Linked DNA regions of Homo sapiens: all the other regions are linked to region 1. The links come from fine-mapping of genetic effects on gene expression. A gene starts in region 1. Each other region holds a variant in brackets. All regions are shown on one strand. Distances are between the middles of the regions. Region 1 holds the start of PKD2L1 (polycystin 2 like 1, transient receptor potential cation channel). Region 2 overlaps GOT1 (glutamic-oxaloacetic transaminase 1). Region 3 overlaps PKD2L1 (polycystin 2 like 1, transient receptor potential cation channel).

Region 1 (7,679 bases):
AGTCTAATAGCATCTGTTTGGTCCAATTTTATTATTATTTACGGTTCTTTGACTCTATCTTCCCACAGTCGCCCTCCTATCTTTTCACTTGCTTCTCTCAACTTAGAGATCAAAATTTCTCAGTTTGTGTCTATAGCTAGAGCCTCAATAAGCTTCCTCCAATGGCATGTGACATGGTGGTCTCTCACATGGGACCATCACCATACCATGTGTTTCCCTCCCTCTCTTAACAGGGATCTGAGATCTAAGGTCGCCTGGATCTTTTACTTCCTCTCTTTTTTCTTCCATCTTTTTCTCTGCCTCTAAAGAAACATGCATCGGATATAGTATAATAACTACGTGAAGCCCACCAAACTATCTTTCCAAACAGAAGGGAGTGGTTTTCCACTCTTTTTTTTTTTTGGAGACAGAGAGACAGAGTCTTGCTCTGTCCCCCAGGCTGGAGTGTAGTGGCACGATCTTGGCTCACTGCAACCTCTGCTCCTGGGTTTAAGCGATTCTCCTGCCTCAGCCTCCTGAGTAGCTGGGATTACAGGCACCTGCCACCCAGCTAATTTTTGTATTTTTAGTAGAGACAGGGTTTCGCCATGTTGGCCAAGCTGGTCTCAAAACTCCTGACCTCAGGTGATGTGCCCACTTCGGCCTCCCAAAGTGCTGGGATTACAGGCGTGAGCCACCGTGCCAGCCCACTCTCTACAGAAGGGTAAAATATTTTCACCTTTCACCTTTTCAGCCAATAGAAAACAATGGCTGCCAAAAACTGGTTTCCCCTTGTAATTCTTGACCAAACTGCCTTCCTCTACTGACAAATTCCTTTTAAACAAAATATCTTAAGCTGCAAAGGTAAATAGATGGGATTGGAATATTGTTATCTAAAGTTCCCGGATATAGCCTGCTTACACAGATAGATGCTCGCTCCACAGATGTTGCCCACAGGAATGTTTATACATATAGTGCACACATAGATGTTTCTCACAGACAGATGTACACAAACACAGATGCTACTCACGTAGACAGATGTCCACCAGGAACACAATATATACCAACAGCTCCCTCAGGGTGGTCTTGATATAAAGTTCCCGGTTCTCAGCTGTGTTCTCAGTCAGGGTTGTTCCCCAAAGTCCTAAGGGGCATGGGAGAGATGCCTGGGATGCTCAGTGGCAGTGTTCCTCCCAGTCATCCCCACCCATCTGTCTCTGGACTTTAGCCCCTTTCCACCCCTGCCCTTCCTTGCCCATCACCTTCATCCTTGGCTGAATCTGGCTACTGTACCCACACCCATGCTTGCTCTTCCCATCAGCTCCCTGAGGTCGACAGGGGTGAAGGCCCTGGCTTGTAGAGAATGAAGGCATGGAAAGGAGGCACCTGTTCCAGGTGGGGTAGTCTAGGGCATCATCACATCCATGTCCTCCCTCAAACCAGCTCCCACATACCTCTCTGGATCCCCAGGTGATGACCATGCCAGGCTCCCACAACCGGTAGACCGCTCAGCTGGCCTCTGTGTTCTGGGTCATGCAGCACTACCATGGGCAATTCATACACCCCAAAGTGACACCGAAAGGTCACCTCTTCTTCAGATCACATTCCACCCCCACCCCCTGCCCAAAAGCTTTTGGTGACTCCTCCTGATTCTAATATCCCAGGAGAACTGTCCCCCTATCTGGTACCTCTGATGCCTTGACAGATATGGAGGCAGCAGCTGGACACCTGGGTCCTGTATGCCGTCTCCTGGGGTTCATCTTCAGGCTTCTTGGGTTGGGGCTGGAGAGGCCCCGTGCTGGAGATGGTGCAGACTCTCAGCGTCCCGTGTGGGGAAGGGGGACCACTGTAGGCGGGGTTGTCCCAGGCTCCACTCCCCAGCTTTTGCAGCTCCTGCCCCTCAGGACTTCCCACAGCATTCATGGGGAATGAGGTGGGGGGGCCCGGTACCCCAGGTGCCCACTCTCAGCTAGAGGAAGAGGGAGCAGAGGCACAGCCCAGCCTAGCCAGCAGAGAGCAAATGGAAAGGCGTCTGAGAGCAGCTGTTTCCACACAGCCTGGGCTCCTGCCTTTTGTAGGGGGATGTCTGTGCCTGCTGGGGAGGGAGCGGATGAGAGGACAGGGTGGGGAAGGACCATCAATCCTGTCAGGAGCTCTCTCTCCCTCTTGCTGCAAGCCCCAGGGGACCAGCCGAAAGGGGAGGTGAGGGAACTGGAAGGTGGGGGTTTGAAGAGGGGAGAGGGGAGAATAGGAGGAGGATGTGGAGCTGGGAGTGGAAGGAGAAACGGGAGGAAAAGGCGATGCTGGGGATGAAGGGGGCTGCTCGCAGATGTGCCTGGTGGAGAGATGGCCCAGAGGTCGGACAGAAGAGACGATCAAAGAGCAATGGGAGGAGCTGAGACAGGAGGGGAGCCGGGGGCCTGTGCTGCGGGTCTGAGCTCATTTCCACTAAAAGCTCCTAAAAGGGCCGACATGGATTGGGGTGGGGACCAAGGCTGGGAGGAAAGCTGAAGAGCGCTGTCCCCCTCCCAGGCTCTGCCCACCTCCCAGGTTCAGTCAATGGGTCTGAGGCTCCTGTCCTGTCTCACCTTCAGCTGTCCCCTGGTGGAGCAGAGATGGGCAGCTCCCTTCCCTCACTTCACCCTCTCAGCCGTGGGGAAAGGACAGTGGCAGGAGGAACCCCAGTCTCACATACTTCAGGGCACTGAGGGGGCAGGGGAGAGGACCACAGAGTCCTAGGTTGTCTATATTCCTTGTTCTGAAGCTTGCCTTTCCATGGCTTACAGGTGAGATACACCAAGAGAGGGGGTTCCTTAAGGGTGTGGGGCTCAGTATGGGAAAAAGGCTAAGACCTGGTTGGGAGGCTGGATCGGAGAACAAAGGACAAGGACAGTATGATGTGGGACTAAAGGGGAGTGGATATCTGGACCCAGCTGAGCTGGGAACCTTTTCCCATGGCTCTGCTTAGTCCTGGGCCTAGAATCGTAAACTTGAGCACAAAGTGGAACTATCCATGATATCAGGATTAATCTGCTTTCTTTATAACTGCAGGTCTCTGAATTAAAACTGTGTCATGGGCCCCCAAGCACATCCCTGCCTATGCCCTGCTCCAGCTTCTGATCACCTGCTCCAGCTCCCCTATAGGCATGCATGATGCCCCAGAATGGGGCTGATCCCACAGGTTGTGGTGGTCACCCTGCAGTTTCTCCTCCTTGAGGCTAGAGCAGAGACTTTCCTCTCCTAACTCCTGGCTCCCCACCCAGGGCTACTCACTGGCCTGAAGCCCACCTTCACATTCAGCAAAACATCAGCCTTGTCAAAATAATCAGTCTTGAGTGTCCCTATAAAGAGATCTTGGCTGGGTGTGGTTGCCCACACCTGTAATTCCAGCACTTTGGGAGGCCAGGGCAGGAGGATCACTTGAGCTCAGGAGTTCAAGACCAGCCCGGGCAACATGGTGAAACACCGCCTCTACAAAACAACAACAAAACAACAAAAATTAGCCAGGCATGGGGTGCGTGCATGTAGTCCCAGCTGCTACTCAGGTGGCTGGGGTGGGAGAACCACTTGAGCTGGGGAGGCTGAGGCGTTGAGGCTGCAGTCAGCTGAAATCACACCACTGCACTCCAGCCTGAGCAACAGAGCAAGACCCTGTCTCAAGAAAAAAGAAAGAAAGAAAGATAACAAGTGTTGGCAAGGCTGTGGAGAAAAGGGGCCCCTTGTATGCTTGGCTGTATTGTAAATTAGTACGGACATCTTGGAAAACAGTATGGAGGTTCCTCAAAAAACTAAAAATAGAATTACCATATGTTCCAAGAATCTCAAAGGAATTGAAATCAGTGTGTTGAATAGATGTCTCCTCTCCCATGTTCATTGCAGGATTATTAATAATAGCCAAGATATGGAAACAATCTAAGTATCCATCAACTGACGAAAGGATTTAAAAGATGTGGTATATATGCACAATATAATATATTCAGCCTTGAAAAAAAAAACACAGAAAATTCTGTCATTTACGACAACATAGATAAACCTAGAGAACATTATGTTAAGTGAAATAAGCCAGGCATAATGAGACAGATGCCCTATGCTCTCACTTATATGTGGAAACTAAAAAAATTGAACTCGTAGAAGTAGAGAGTAGAATGGTGGTTACCAGAGGCTGGGGGTGAGGGGTGTGTGAGAGGGGAAGAGAGTGGTCGATGGATAAAAGCTTTCAATCAGGCAAGAGAAATATGTTCTGTTGTTCTGTTGCACAGTGTGGTGACTACAGTTGATAATGAGGTACTGTGTACTTCAAAATAGCTAACAGAGAGGATTTAAAAAGTTCTTACTACAAAGAAATGATAAATATTTGAAGTAATGAATATGCTAATTCACCTGATTTGATCACTCCACAATGTATACATGTATCAAAATGTCACATTGTACCTCATAAGTATATAGAATTATTATTTATCAATTAAAAATAAAATAAAACTTTAAAAAATGGAGCAAATGGGCCAGGCACAGTGGCTAACATCAGCACTTTGGGAGGCCGAGCTTGAGACTAGGAGTTCAAGACCAGCCTGGGCAACAAAGTGAGACCCTGTCTCTACAAAAAAATCAAAAAATTAGCTGGGCATGGTAATGCATGTCTGTGATCCCAAATACACAGGAGGCTGAGGCAGGAGGATTGCTTGAGCCCGGGAGGTCAGGGCTGCAGTGAGCCGTGTTCATGCCATTGCACTCCAGCCTTGGTGACAGAGAAAGAGCTTGTTTCAAAAAAAAAAAAAAAAAAAAGCAGCAGCAGCAAATGGAGGCATGAATAATGTGAGGTAGCCTATTTTAATGGTATAGACACTAAACATTATGAAGTTTAGGGGAAAAGGAAGCTTCCTCTGGAGGAAATGAAACAGAAGCTAGATCTTGATGGATGGGCGAGGTTTGGGAAGGAAGAGCCCCATCAGGTTTGGATGGGAAGGTTTGGAAAAGAAGAGGTTCCTTCTAAGCATAGGAATGATAGGTGGGGTCTTGGGGCTCTGAAGATGTCTGTGATGCCCCTAGGGTTGTAGAAGACTGGCCCTTAGTGCAGTTGGGAGAAAACAGAGGAGGGGGAAGGCCTGAGGTTGCATAACGAGGGTGAGGACCTCTGGTGGTCCCTATTGCCGCCGAGAACTGTGGTGTGCGTGAATCCCTTCAGAGACCATGGAAACTACCAGCTATTCAGAGTGGTTGAAGAACAAAAGGAGGTGGCTTCTGACCAAGTCAGTGGGAAGGAAATGACAAAATAAGAAGAAAAGGAAGGGTTCTTTTTCATTTGGGGCACTCATCCATGCTAATTTTTCATCCATAAAGAAATGAGTAGTCAATCTTTTCATGCTTCCTTTACCAAAAGGTGATTGAATTTATTTTATTAATTCATAGCCTATGTTTAAGGGAAATATATTATTTTGAGATTTTTATTTGTAGTTTAAATGTTTCTTGGGGGGTTGGAGATTTAAGGTAGTCCCAGACTTCTTTTAGATTTTTCCTCCTTATTATAGTTTGTATAAATATTGATCCAACCTAGATATAAGCTATGGGTAGGAGGAATCTTTTTTTTTTTTAACTATAGAACACAGCATTCCAGAAAAACCTCATTTCCATTGGTGAATGGCTATTGGCATACACAAACCTGGCATGTGGTTGAGGAGAAGGGATGCAGCTGACGTGAGAAAATCTTGAGAAGAGAGCCATAATCCCGCTTCCAATTCACTTGAGGTTTTGATGTATGAGGAAAGATGAAAAGAACTGTATGTGGGTAGGCCTGGCTGAAGAGCTAAGGAGTGCAGGTGCATGTGTGTGGGATGGGGTCCTGACAGCCATGTGCAGATGCATGTGTGTGGGATGGGGTCCTGACAGCCATGTGCAGATAGTTGAAGGCATAAGCCCCAAAGAAGGAGAGGGATTGTGAAGGTGCTCTTTAGGGGATTATCTAAGGGTAATGAATGAACCAAAGGGGAAAAAAATGTTTCATCAGAACTTTCATCATGGGTAAGATGTAAGAGGCTATAAAACAACCTCCCATGAGAGGTGGTGAAATTCCCATCCCTTGAGTCATTTGGAGGAGACCTAGAAAGTTTTGGAAGTATACAACACTGCCCTGGTGGGGGAACAGATTTGGCAACCAAGACTATCCTCTATCCTGGTGTTTTACAGCTCAATTTCCAAGATGAGTCCATTGATAAGCAATAAATTTGGAAACTCTCCAGAAAAAAAAAAGAAAAAGGAGGAAGAACTGTACCAGAATCAACCACCTTATGTTAGATAAGCTGATGACAAAGGAAAAGGGAGCCACTACCTCTCACCTACAAGCCTTTTAAATAATTGCAAAAAGACCCCTGCCTTGCATAACTGGACCTTAGGATAGGGTTGATGAGCAGGAAGCTAACAGTATGGTCCAGAGAAGCAGGAAAAGCAACAGGAGATGGTATATGGTTCCCATTGGGTAATTTTGGATTCTGGAGGAGGCTTGTGATCAGCAGGGGTTTGACTGTGCTAAAGGAGGGTCATCATGTGACAAGTCTCACATCTCTGATTGTTCAAGGCCACCAGTGGACTGCTTTATTCACCTTTGGTCACCTACCTGGGCAAAATCCGATTGCTTTCTCCTGCTTAGGGTTAAGCATTCCCCATGTGTGTGGATCAACCCGTATTGGCCCCAGGAGCACAGCTTATGCAACACGGCTTGAGAAATGTTCTCAAAAAGTTCTCTGCATCCTTATGATGTTTAAACTTGCTCAAGAAATTGCAACTGTGGTAATCAAGTGGCATCTCCTGATTATCTTGTGTCCAGTACCTTTCTCCATGTCCCCAAGCTCCTACTGGCACTTGACTTTTCCTCTTGTCGATGCCATCGACAAAGCAGTGTCAGCCGGGCGTGGTGGCTAATGCCTGTAATCCCAACACTTTGGGAGACTGAGGCGGGCAGATCACCTGAAGTCAGGAGTTCGAGACCAGCCTGGCCAACATGGTGAAACACTGTCTCTACTAAAAATACAAAAATTAGCCGGGCATGGTGGCATGTGCCTATAATTCCAGCTACTCGGGAGGCTGAGGCAGGAGAATCACTTGTACCTGGGAAGTGGAGGTTGCAGTGAGCCAAGATCACGCCACTGCACTCCAGCCTGGGCAACAGAGCAAGACTCTGTCTCAAACAAACAAAAAAATGTGAATAAAGTCCCTGGGTTTAGCAGGGCTCAGCAACTTACTAGTATATGGTTCTGAACAAGTCGCTTTTGAGACTCAGTTTACCTATCTGCAAATCTCCAAAGTGTTGATAGCAATGCCTGCCCTGCTGACTTTAAGGACTGTTTTAGGATTTAGATAATAGAATATAGAAGTCTTTATAAACTGTGTACTTTGAAGCACAAAACAAATTTAGTTCTCTTGCTGTTGCATCCATGCTTGTACATTCCACTCATATACAGCAATTCGTGGGTAATGTAGATACCTTCAGCCAGGACTTTGACATTGTTTCTGAGCGACACGGGTCCCAGAATTCTCTGTGTCTACACTATTTCAAGCAGCTGACACCAGTAGAATGGAGTGATACCATTTGGCCTGGAGAGAATTCCAAAGGTAATCTTTGAGTGACAGCACCTATTAGATGAATTTTATAACCACATGACAAGCCTTATAGCCCATCAAAGCCAGAAGCACCTCTTCATCTGGAAGCT
Region 2 (7,679 bases), 930 kb before region 1:
CAACCAACACCCCCACATAACTTTGTCCCCTCTTCCCCAACAACCCAGAGCAGGTGTTGCAGACAGGAGGGCCACAGCGTGTGGAAGTAAAGACTTTGGAGCTAGAGAAGCCTTTTCCAGCAATGATTATTGACTTCACCACACCCCTTGCCTGGCCTGGCCTGAGGCTCAGCAGTGCATGACTTCTCGTAGATAACTTCACAGTCATCCAGTCCCAACACCTGCTCTTGCCTGGTAGGAACAGGCGAAGTGTCAGCCCTCAATGTTGGGTACTTAGACCCAAACCAATAAATGGTGAGTTTTGAACAAGAACTACCATCATGCAGGCTTCTTGCCCAGCTGACCACTGGCCCCGGGGTGCCTGCCTGGCTGGTCTTCATCACCTGAGGCCACCAGGCTCAAGCCACTGCTGTTGCATTACACCCATCCCTTTGCAAAATCCCTATGGAGCCTGTCACCACTCCCCTCCCTATATACCCCCACCCCACAAAGATTTTCTTCAGGTTAAAAAAAAAGTTTAAAAAAAAGATTTTAAAATAAAGCATTTATGAAGGCTTAATAAATTGTAAATAATTTTTAAATAAAATGAAAATGCCTTTCCTGGAATGTGGCTGTTTTCCTTGCCCCTGGAATCTTCTGACGTGGCTTCATTTGAGATGCAGGTTGAGTGATGCCCACGTGTGATGATCTCACCTGTGCACCACCTGCCTGAAGAGGCATGCCGCTCCGGGCCAGGTGTGAGGCTGCGGTGAGGTCACGGGGAAGCCTTGGCACACTACTTTGGGAGGCCAGATGGTAAGATTTTGCAGGAGTGAATGCCAGAAATGAGAAGTAAAACCCAAATGAGAAGCCAGTATGCATAAAGACGAGGAAGGAACTAAGACGACAGTGAGAAGGGCTGGCATTTGCTGAACCCATGTGATGGGTGAGGTGCTGTGCTGGGTGCCGTCCAAATTCAGGGTCTTGGGGGCTAAACCCAGACAAGCCCCTGAGACAGAATGTTGGTCACACTAGCTCGCTTCTGCAGAACCTTCAGAAAGGAGTCCAAGTGGCATGACTCTGGCAGTTTGCAACCAAAGGCTAGGGAACGGAACACAAGAATGGGCCAGGCCTGTTGGTCAGTTTTAAGCCGATGCTGGAGGGAGGGAACAGCCAGGCAGGTGGGAAGATGTGTTTGGGCATATAATACCTGTGTGGAAGGAAGGCTGAAATCTGACACCTACTACTCATTTCTCAAAGCAAACAGGAGGATCAGGGGCCTATGCCAAAACCTCTTAAGATTCTTCTCAGGAACCTCAGTAGAGGCTATTCATTTCACTAACGGTAATAATAAATAATGGAAACAACTATTTTGCCAAGGGCTTTATGTTCCAAGTATTCTGTTAAGTACCCATTAGCTCATTTCTTTCTCAACCACCCTGTGGAGGAGGGGTTACTGTCTGCAAGGTTACTGTCTTCTTGCTCACGGTTACACACCTGGGAACTGGCAGAGCCTGGAGGTTGGAGTGCCCTGCTCTTGAGTGAGCAAAATTGGTGAAACAATCCCACCTCTGAAGTTCACTGGCATGTCAGAGGCCTGAGGAGTCCTGCCGGCTTCCCAAACTCACAGCCCTTTTTCAGGTGAACGCAGTGGGAACCACACCAACCAACATATCTGTCGGAATAGAAGAAGGCCAGATTCCCATTGAGATGGGCTTTTTTCAAGGCTAAAAACATTTGAGCACTTTGGTACTGTCACTTAGATTTAAAGATGTGTTTATCTTTAATGGTTTTGGCAGCCCCCTAAAGAGAAAATTTTAATTTTCCCTAACAAGAGAAATTAAATACTAATAAGATGGTCAGGTAGGATTGCACTTTGGAAGGCAACATTTTAGTATTTCAGGCTTTTTTTTTTTTTGCCCCAGAGAGCCAATTTTCGTCCCCATGGAGGCAGTATCGTCCCCATGGAGAATGAGTGGTTGAAAGCGTTTGGAGAGAATGGCAGATTGACAGAAGGTAGAATCATTCGACTTCTCTGTTGGCTGCCTTCCCTTACTAACAACAAGCATCTTTACATTGGGAGGAGAACAAAGACTGATATGTTCAGAAAGCTGTGAAGAGATGGGTGGGAGGGCATCTAATCACATTCACTCATGAACTTCCACCAGCCCAACCACACACTGGCAGAGTGAGTGTCCTCTGAAGAACTCCTGGGGCTCCAGCCAGACAGGGAAGGATCTGGAAACCACATCCTGTGCAGAAACAAAAGTGGTGGGGGAGAGGCAGTTCATGTGGAAAAGTGTAAACAAGGAATGACAACTGCTACTTTCAAATATTTGAAAGGTGGTAGATTAGAAGTGCCAGTAGATTTACTATCTGTGGTTTAAAGGAAGGAAAGGAGGGGCAGGGGAGTGGAACAAAGATCAAATTCTGGTTCAAGGTAGATGAACTTTTACCGTGAGCAAAAGGTAAATGAGCCTCTTTTTTTTTAATTAAGAGGCCCCACCAGCAGAAGGGGATGCCTCACCAGGTATTTAAAGAATCCATCACCACTACCACCCCACCAGTTGAAATGGATGAGTCAGAGACAATATGGAGAGACTATTTCACTGGCGGAGAGGCAGGACTTGATGACTTCTGAGGCCCCAGTCATCCCTCAGGACTGCAGGATTTTCTAACAACCCAAATGAGTCCTAGAAAGTGGCAGATCCTATTAAAATCACAAGAATTAACTTTAAATACTTAAAAACTCCAATTAATAGACCTCTTGTGTTAAGTAACATCAAACCCCACCAAATTCTACAAAATGGCCATTTGGAGCGGCCCTTGGACTCTGGAAATTGTGATGTATGTTTTTGTGGTTCTGTTTCAATAAACCAGGAGGGACTCTGACAGCAGGGAACGGGCTGATGTTCTATAATCAACCTGAGTGATGTCATCTCCTCTCACAGTCCAAGAAGTCCAGTTTCTTAAGTAACATAAGACAGCTGGCCTCCAAATGACAAGCCCGCAAAATCACCAGGGAGTTATATGGTGAGTTCACTGAAGGAAGCTATACTGTAAGAACACATTGTAGTTTTTCCTTTAGCCACTAGTAAAACCCTCTAAAGCATTCATTTTAAACTGTGGGTCACAACCCATTAGTGGTCATAAAATCAACTCCATGTCTTGATCAACATTTTTATTTTATTTTTTTAGGTGAAGTAGAACACAATAGAATGGCTCAAAAATATCAGAATGCACTACGCACATCACGAGTAAATACTGTTTGGTAAAACTTGTTTCAGTTAAATATGTACGTGTCCGTGCATGTCATGATTAAATATCCTTCTTACCACAGTCACCCTAAAGAACCAAAGCTTAGGACTAGGGACACAACCATGCAGAAAGAGCAGGGAGACCAGACACTCTGGGTTGAGATGATGAATTTAATGCCGCAGCCGACACCCACATTCACACTTTGGCTCCTTCAGACAACTTGATCTTTGGGACTAGAATTTGTACAGAGTCAAACACCACATAGAAGCACGTGGCCGCCACACACAACACTCCTTTTTAGTGAGAGGGACAAGATACCTATGTCTCATGATCAAAGTACTCTTTTATTCTTAAATAAAAATCTTAATTTGCTTTGACCTCCAAAGGCTCTAATCCCAGTCTCCAAATTCGTCTCAAGGGATGTTCTCTTCATGTGGGGCC[G/A]GTTTAAACAGAGGCTGCCTCACCAGAGCAGCCTTTCAGTCCTGCAAGTGTCTCTAATCCATGGTATGTACATGTAGGTTTGTGCAGGCAGGGAACACACATGACAGAGAACTACTTTGGTGGTACTGGACGGGTGGTGTTTCTTCACTGGATTTTGGTGACTGCTTCATGGATGGAGGTGGCCACGTAATCTAGATTTTTGGTGGTTAAGCCACTCACGTTGATTCGACCACTTGGCAGCAGGTAGATGTGCTTTTCATTGACCAGATACTCAACCTGCTTGGCTGTTGAAAACCAAAAGAAGACATAATCAGAGCAGAGGGGATCCTTAAAGCAGTGGAGGCTCAGCAATTATATGACAATTACAGCTTTACTTCTTTCCCCTTAACAGAGAGAAGCAAAACAAAAGGCGCTATTTTGTCCAACTGACAAACAGAAAAATATGCTCACTAGATTCTGGAAAGTACTCTTACTAGTTCACCTTTGAATCCCCAGAAAATTCAATATGGCTACTACTGATGGGAATTTTAATCTGAGATTGCCTTCCAACCAAGCCTTATACATTATATCCACCAGGACACCCCTATCACCTAAAAACAACCATCAGACGGACAGCGATATGAAATGCTGGCTATGAAGTGCTTCCTTTAGTTCTTCCCTAACCTGGACTTGCATTGAGTACCCGCGGCAGCCTCCCTTTGACATTTCATTTTTACAATACATTGGGTAAGGCCCCATGCATGAGGTACCTGATCAATCCTGTGTGAATTAACCAATGAGCTGAGAAATGACACAGACCTCTCTGACCTGGCACCATCAGACTTCTGTTCATTTCTCAGCTTTCTCTCAGATGCAGTAGTTTTTCCATGTTTTCAGAAATGCATCACATGTGGGTAAGAAGAGACTACCTGTACTTCCTTTATACAGCAGTCTCTAAAGCAGTTTTGCTATTTGGCAAATCCATTGATAGAATTTTAGTGAATTTGGCTGGGCACAGTGGTTCACGCCTGTGATCCCAGCACTTCAGGAGGCTGAGGCTGGTGGATTACCTGAGGTCAGAAGTTTGAGACCAGCCTGGCCAACATGCTGAGACCCAGTCTCTACTAAAAATACAAAAATTAGCCAGGCGTGGTGGCATGTGCCTATGGTCCCAGCTACTCAGGAGGCTGAGGCAGGAGAATTGCTTGAAACCCAAGAGGAGGAAGTTGCAGTGAGCCGAGATCACACCACTGCACTCCAGCCTGGGTGACAGAGTGAGACTCTGTCTCAAAAAAAAAAAGAATTTTAGTGAATTATTGCTTAAGTAATTAGTACCTTTAAGATACCACCAACCTGAGGAAATGGAATAATAATAGAATCATCATAATCAGAGGAGTAAACACTATGTGCCAGGCAGTGTTCTAAGCACTGCATCTTAGTTCATCCTGATAATAACTTTATCATGCCCATTTTACAGATAGGCCATAAAGACATTAAATGGCCTTCCGAGATTGCACAGCTGGTCAATGGTGGATGTGGGATTTTCAGGCAGGATTTCAAGTCTGGGCTGTACACTGCCCCCGTGATGCTACAGTGCCTCTCTAAGGAAGTGAAAAATCTGGACCCTGGACTCAGTGCTCCTTGAAGGAAACCAAAATAGTTCACCCCAAAATATACTTTGACATATTTTGAGATGGCTGTTGAGAGGGCCTACATACAGAAGTAGCCCTGCAAAGCTGTCTTTTGTGGGAGAGATCTGTATCTGTAGAGAAAATCTGCATGGCTGCAGCTAGGCTTTCTCTGAGGCCCTCCCTTGTCCAGATCTAGGGGAGATTAACTGAGAGTGTGATGCCTTTAAAGGTCTAAAAGAAATAGACCTTTACCGCTATTTTCTCCGAGGGCTGCTACCTGTCTTATCTACATAATATAACAAGACCACCTTTGCTAACCAGGCCTTCTCTTCTCTGCCTGCCATAATCTGTTCTGGCAAGCTCCAAGCTCCCATTCTTTCTATAACCCCAAGATGGTATAAAAGCATCAATCATCTGGCCATTTATTTGAGTTCTATTTTGTAAGACACCTGTGCAAGTTAATAAATTTGCATGCTGGCCAGGCACAGTGGCTCATGCCTGTAATCCAAGTACTTTGGGAGGCTGAGGAGGGAGGATTGCTTGAGCCCAGGAGTTGACGACCAGCCTGGGCATCATAAGGAGACCCTGTCTCTACAAAAAAATCTTAAAAATTAGCCGGGCATGGTGGCACACACCTGTGGTCCCAGGTACTACGAAGGCTGAGGTGGGTGGATTGCTTGGGCCTGGGAGGTTGAGGCTACAGTAAGCCATGATTGTGACGCCGCACTCCAGCCTGGGCAACAGAGTGAGACTCTGACTCAAAAATAAATAAATAAATTTGTATGCCTTTTCTCCTATTAATCTGCCTCTTGTCAGCTGATTTCCAGCAAACTTTCAGAGGGCAAAGGGTAAGTTTTCCCTTGACCCCTCCAAACCAGTGAACAAAGAAAGCAAGCTTAAGAAGAGGTTTACCTGTGTGAATTGGTCACCCAAGGGGATAGAGCCTCAAGCCAACACAGCCCTGGGTGTGCCACTCTTTCTAAAAGCCTGTGCCCTGAGGCAGTGATTAAATGACTCCTACCCTGGCTTTTGGTTTTGTTTTAGTAAAAATGAGGCCTTTCTACTTTTTCAGAGAAGGGAAGTGTCACAGTTTGAAAAGCTAGTAAAAGTTATGGACTCTTTCCCTAGAGCAGGGCCAAAATACACATATACAATTTTTTAAACATCATTTCAGGGGCTTCACAGTTCTCCTAAACGTACATCCAGGGATTCCAGGTTAAAAGCCCCATTCTGACAGAAAAAAGATAACAAAGGAAGTATTGTAATGTGAGAATTGTAGAAACTAGGTGGCGGATATATAGGGGTTCACTGTACAATTCCTCCAACTTTTCTGTATGTTTAAAACTTTTCTGGCCAGGTGCAGTGGCTCATGCCTGTAATCCCAGCACCTTGGGAGACCGAGGCGGGCAGATCACTTGAGCTCAGGAGTTTGAGACCAGCCTGAGCAATATGGTGAGACCCCGTTTCTACAAAAAATTAGCCGGGCATGGTGGTTCACGCCTGTGGTCCCAGCCACTTGGACACTGAGGTGGAATGATCACCTGAGCCCAGGGGGCAGAAGTTGCAGTGGCCCGAGATTGCACCGCTGTACTCCACCCTGGGTGACAGAGCGAGACCGTGTCTGAAACAAACAAACAAACAAAAAAGGCCAGGCACAGTGGCTCACGCCTGTAATCCCAGCACTGTGGGAGGCCAAGGCAGGTAGATCACTTAAGGTCAGGAGTTTGAGACCAGCCTGGTCAACATGGTGAAACCCTGTCTCTACTAAAAATACAAAAATTAGCTGGGTGTGGTGGCTCATGCCTGTAGTCCCAGCTACTTGAGAGGCTGAGGCAGGAGAATCGCTTGAATCCAGGAGGTGGAGGTTGCAGTGAGCCAAGATTGTGCCACTGCACTCCAGCCTGAGCAACAGAGCAAGACTCTGTCTCAAAAAGAAAAAAAAAGTTGGGAGGAAAACAAAACCCCTGTTTTTAATAAGGGCAAATGATGCCAAGCGCTAAAAATATAACTTTTGTGTTATAAGCACAGTTCTATTCTCATCATTTTTCCAATTCGTGATATTAATAAAACTAATTTCCTCCTGTGGATAATGGGAAGATATGGATATTTTACAGGGAGACATTCCCATATTGTGAGCTTTTAGACTATTACTACTAAAGACTATTAATATTTCTGTTACATGTAATATTTTTATAATTGTGAGTGAACTAATTCTCTGTTCCTCAGTCAAGAGGACATCTACAGCTAACTGAGCTATTTCTTTACTTTCTTAGGTAGCTTCATTTTACCCCAAAGTATTTTGAGGGGTCCACAATACAAGCTCTATTAACTGCCATTTATATTTATTTCCTTTGGATTTTTCTGAGCCCACTTCACACTGGCACTGTGATG
Region 3 (5,000 bases), 40 kb before region 1:
CACCATGAAAGGGCACAGCAAGAAGACAGCTCTCTATGAATCAGGAAGTGGGCCCTCAACAGATACTGAATCTACTGGCACCTTGATCTTAGACTTCCCAGCCTCCCAAACTGTGAGGAACAAATTTGTGTTGCTTATAAGCCACCCAGTCTATGATAATTTATTATATCAGCCCAAACAGACTGACACAGACCATCTCATGTGGCCAAGGCAGCCCTTAGGCCAGGGCAAGCAACTTCCAGGCCTTATCTCCATGACCCATCTCTGCTGATACACTAACCGCTATGAACATGTTTCCCCAGGAGCCTGAAAACATAGGTCTTTCAAAAATGTTCTTGCCCCACCCACTGAGTGGAAAAGATGGCAGAGTTCAGCTGTGAGGAACTAGGAGGACCAGGTGAAGGGCCACTCACCACGCCTGGGGAGGGAGCCAGCCACCCCTTCCTCTCCAGCATTTTCAGCTTTGAGCCTACAGCATCAATCTGGGACACTACTCCTTCCAGGACAGTCTCCAGCTGCAGAACTCTCCTTGTGAGCCTGTGTGGGATTTGAGAGAGACGAATGGAGCAGAAATCTGTGTCTGGGGGCTGGATGTCTAAAGAGCCAGGGTTCACAGAAGGGCATGTGTCCTGAATGGAACAAGGAAGGGAAGACCCAGCCTTGTAGGCAGAATTAAAGGGGAGCGGAGGTTCTCCCTGGGGTAGGACAGAGAATTGGAAAGTTGTGGGAAAAGTACAAGACAGGGTATCGTAATAGAAGTGTTGCCAGCCCTGAACCAGCCTTTCTTGGCTGCACGTACATGTAGAATTCTTCTCCTGAAACCCAGCCTCCTGCTCTGGCAGCCTCTGGACCCGATTTGCCTTGTGGGCTGCTCACAATAGATCGGCCTAGTTTCTCAATCTCAGTGTTGAGGGCCACCTGCTCAGGAAGTCAGAGGTTAGAGGGGAGGAGATAACTCTGGGAAGCCATCAGCTCCTGTTCTATCACCTACTCTACTGGGATCTCAGGACCAAGGCTCAGGTCCTAGTTCTTGCTATTCCCCTTCCCTCCCAGACTCTGGAGACAATAGGGTCAGGGTGGTGGTGCTGGACCAACCTCTGGAGGAGTCACCTCTCAAAGAAAACACAAGATCCTAGAAGGCTTGATGGATGAGGTATTTACTAGAGGCCAACTCATTTTAGCAGAGGAGGGACACTACCAGTGTTCTTGGCACTTTCTAGGCTGCTGTCACCCTGCCTTTGACTTTTTTTGGTCCACACTGGATAGGGATGGAGCAGGCACAGTAGGGACAGCCAAGAATCCAAGTCTGAAAATTCCCAAGAGAAGGCAAGTCCTCTGAGGGAATTATCAGTGATTCTTGGGCAGTTGGTCATTTTTCCCTAAGCCTGTGTTTTAGAGCATGATTCTCAACCTTGGCTATGTATTGGAATCACCTAAGGAGTTATAAAAAGTACTGATGTCTAGGCCCCACACCCAGAGATTCTGGTTTAATTGGTCTAGAGTGTGTGTCCTGAGTATGAAGATTTTTAAAGGCCCCCCAGGGTATTCTAATGTGCAGCAGTTTGGGAACTACTATTCTAGAGAGTTCTTTACTATCTATGGGAGAGTTTTCAGGTGGGTTTGTGTTCTAGGTATGTTGGGGGAAGGAGAGGGTGAGCTATTTCCTTACACTGCCTCTCCACCCATCAGCCCAGCTCACCCTCTCTTCCTCCAGGTCCTGTCGCATTTTTTCCTGTTCCTTCTCATCCAGAATACGATTCCCATCTCTGTCAAACTTGGTGAAGGTGGCCGTGAGCTCAGTGATTTCATGCTCTGCGTGTCCCAGTCTGAGAAGAGGATGATGAAATGATTTCTGCCCAGCTGTGGCTGTGACCTCTCAGTTATGGACTTCCTCACTCTTTTGCTTGACTCTGGCAAAAGTTTTGCTTCTGG[T/A]AAAGAAGGTTCTCCAAAGTCTAGCAATCTTACCCCCAGGAAAACACTCAGTTCAGTTCAGTTTCTTCTTCCTCTCCTGACTCCTGCTCACCAGGTTCAGGGCCTCATGACCTCCTACAGGGATTATTGCAAAATCTGTTTGCCTCTAAATAACCTGCTATCCCCCAGCTTCCCCTTTACTCCCTACCCCTGAAATCCATCCTCCATAATACAACTAGAGTAATTAACCTTTCTAATATGCAGATCTAAAAATGTGCCTTCTTGAAATCCCTTCTGGCACCCTATTCTTTTGGCAGAGTGGTAGTGTGGCCTTTCTCAGTGTGGTCCTTGCCTGTTTCTCTGGTCTCATCTCCTGCTATGACCACCACCTGTCCCCGCCCCTTTATTTAATACTTAGCAATGCTCAACTACTTATTCCTCCTGTGTATGTTGCTTGGTTTCAGACCTCTATGCTTTTGTATGTGCTTTCATCTCTTCTTGGAAGAGCCTTCCTCTGCTTGTCCACTTGTGAGCTATTCATCCTCCAATATCCTATTTAGACATTACCTCTTCCAGGAAGCCTTCCCTTAAGCTCAGAGATAGAATTGATCACCCTCTACTCCTAGTCACTTCTGTTGAACTTATTCTGTGATTCAGTTTATTTGCAAGTCTATGAGCTCTTAGAAAACAAAGACTTTGTCCCATTTAATTACGTTGTCTCCTAATCCCAGCACTTTGGGAGGCTGAGGTGGGTGGATCACTTGAGGCCAGGAGTTTGAGACCAGCCTGGCCAACATGGCAAAATCCCATCTCTACCAAAAATACAAAAATTAGCCGGGCGTGGTGGCACATGACTGTAGTCCCAGCTACTCAGGAGGCTGAGGCATGAGAATTGCTTGACCCCGGGGAAGCTGAGGTTGCAGTGAGCCGAGATTGTGCAACTGCACTCCAGCCTGGGCAACAGAGCAGGACTTTGTCTCAAAAAAAAAAAAAAAATTATGTTGTCTATTACTCAGTGCCTGATCTGCAGCTGGTGCTCACAATGTATTTGTTCAATGTGTATTAATATGTTTGACTGGGAATCAGGGAGTGAATGGCTAAAGGAATAGATGAGTGTTTGTGGGGAAGCATAGAACAAAAATCAGAGTTTTGTGGGAGTGGGGTGTGTATTCAATGATTAGGGAATTATTACATTGTTTCCTAAGAGTTGTTCAACAAGATCCAGGATGTTATAAACCACGGTCAGAGATTTTTAAACCAAGGGCACAGTTCTGAAGGTCAGGAGCGGAGACCTACGGGCAAAGATCTGAAGCCTGCAAGTCAAGATCAGAGGCCCCTAAACTAAAACCAAAGGCTTATAAGCAAATGAAGTATGGTTGAGGGTTGAGGACTTAAGAGACTGTTATTAGAGAAGGCTGGGTCTCTGGTTGCTCACTCCCTTAAGGTGTTGGTGAAATCCTCAAACTGGATCTCCTGCTCCCCACCCTGCAGGACCTTCTGCACATCCGAAACCCTCTCCTTCCTCAGACGCAGTCTTAGTAGGGTCTTGTTGTAGCCCTGAAAGGGAAAGGAAATAGGCACAAGTTCTCACAGGCTGCTCACTCATCCCTGGCCCCCAGCCCCACCCATAGTATGCCAGGCTTCCAAGGATAAATTTAAAGGCACACAAGGGCACAGGCACCTCAATCAGTCAGGAACAGACCAGGACACAGAGCCTTAGACTGGGGCACTGATGGAAATGTGTAGCTCAAGGAGATTGAGCAATCACCTGTTTCAGGAGGTCAGAAAGTTGCAGCTCATCCTTCTGTCCAGCCAGCTCCTCCTTGACCTCTGAATATGTGTCATTGATGATGGCCAGGAACATGTTCTGGAAAATGAAGTGGGGACCTGGGTCCTCACCCCCAGACCCACTGAAAGGATTGAGCCCACTGACCCCATTAATGTCCAAGACACGTGTTCCAAAGGGGTCAGTGCTCTCAACCCCAGTTCGGCAGCCCATCAATCCCTGCCTCTCAGGGTCCCCAGAGCCCAGCCTTTCAGCACAGTTCTGTTAGAGATGGATCATGCTTCTTGACCAACCTGGTGTCCTCACTCTCAGTTGCTGTAGTAACCTTTCTGACCACAGAGATACAATAACATATGCCACAGACCTCCTTTGTATAAGGGCCCATCAATCATTGGAACTAGAGGCTTTTCAGGGTGAGAGTACAATTGTGATCTCTTTTTCATCTACCCCCCAATCCATATCTGTATCCCCATCCATTGATCAAATAAAGAAAATTGCTGGCCTTGTTAGTAAAAATAAAATCCAAGAGCTGGGCACACTGGCCTACACCTGTAATCCAGCACTTTGGGAGGCCAAGGCAGGCAGATTGCTTGAGTCCAGGAGTTAGAGACCAGCCTGGGCAACATAGCAAAACACTGTCTCTACAAAAGATACAAAAATTAGCGGGGTGTGGTGGCTCCTGACCATACCAGTGGTCCTATCTACTCAGGAAGCTAAAGTGGGAGGATAGTTTGAGCTCGGGAGGTGGAGGTTGCAGTGAGCTGAGATTGCACCACTGCACTCCAGCCTGGGTGACAGAGTGAGACCCTGTCTAAAATAAATAAATAATAACCCAGATTTTTCATGGTTGGCAGGGAGAGAGAACTACCAAGTAGTGGCAGTAGAAATCAGCATGAGATCCCCAGAGGAAGGGGAGTCTTGGAGGACGGTCGTAGACGCTTCCAGGTGCAGCTACTGCTCCTCATAAGGCACTTTTCTCCCCATTTCCATCCTTGGAGAATGAGGGTTTGATTTTACTGAGGGAGTCTGCAGGTTCCCTTATACTCTGCAAACCTGCAAACTGACCATGCTGGCTGTACTACATTAACCATCTCTCAGAAGATCCAGACATCGGCCCCCCCACTCACTCTCCATCCTTGATTTGAGAAACTTATCAATCCTGAGTGAGGGACATACTAGGACCAAAACTCCACCCTGCAGGCTCTCTATGTCCCCACCCCTCAGAGAGACCCTCACCAGGAGCACGAAGAAGACGAAGAAGACATAGGTGACAAAGTAGGCAGGGCCCAGGATGCGGTTGGCA

Evidence for each region. PIP is the estimated chance that this variant, and not a neighbour inherited with it, causes the effect.
Region 2: its variant is fine-mapped to the expression of PKD2L1 in macrophages (Nedelec 2016, PIP 0.95).
Region 3: its variant is fine-mapped to the expression of PKD2L1 in whole blood (TOPMed, PIP above 0.99). The same link has a PIP of 0.9 or more in blood mononuclear cells and monocytes.

Annotation. Positions count from the first base shown.
Region 1 is chr10:100,328,202-100,335,880 of GRCh38, forward strand. PKD2L1 (polycystin 2 like 1, transient receptor potential cation channel) reads right to left here and starts at 2,027. Exons shown (of 16, transcript NM_016112.3): 1 at 1,668-2,027; 2 at 1,010-1,123. The coding sequence starts at 1,902.
Region 2 is chr10:99,393,725-99,401,403 of GRCh38, forward strand. GOT1 (glutamic-oxaloacetic transaminase 1) reads right to left here. Exons shown (of 9, transcript NM_002079.3): 9 at 3,146-3,962. The coding sequence ends at 3,823. It overlaps CNNM1 (cyclin and CBS domain divalent metal cation transport mediator 1), which reads left to right. Exons shown (of 11, transcript NM_020348.3): 11 at 1-606. Among named protein-coding and RNA genes, the nearest start is that of GOT1, 33 kb to the right of the region's middle. The variant G/A (reference allele first, on the strand shown) is at 3,679.
Region 3 is chr10:100,289,602-100,294,601 of GRCh38, forward strand. It overlaps PKD2L1 (polycystin 2 like 1, transient receptor potential cation channel), which reads right to left. Exons shown (of 16, transcript NM_016112.3): 9 at 4,934-5,000; 10 at 3,680-3,778; 11 at 3,347-3,468; 12 at 1,700-1,826; 13 at 800-918; 14 at 414-537. Among named protein-coding and RNA genes, the nearest start is that of BLOC1S2, 5.4 kb to the left of the region's middle. The variant T/A (reference allele first, on the strand shown) is at 1,933.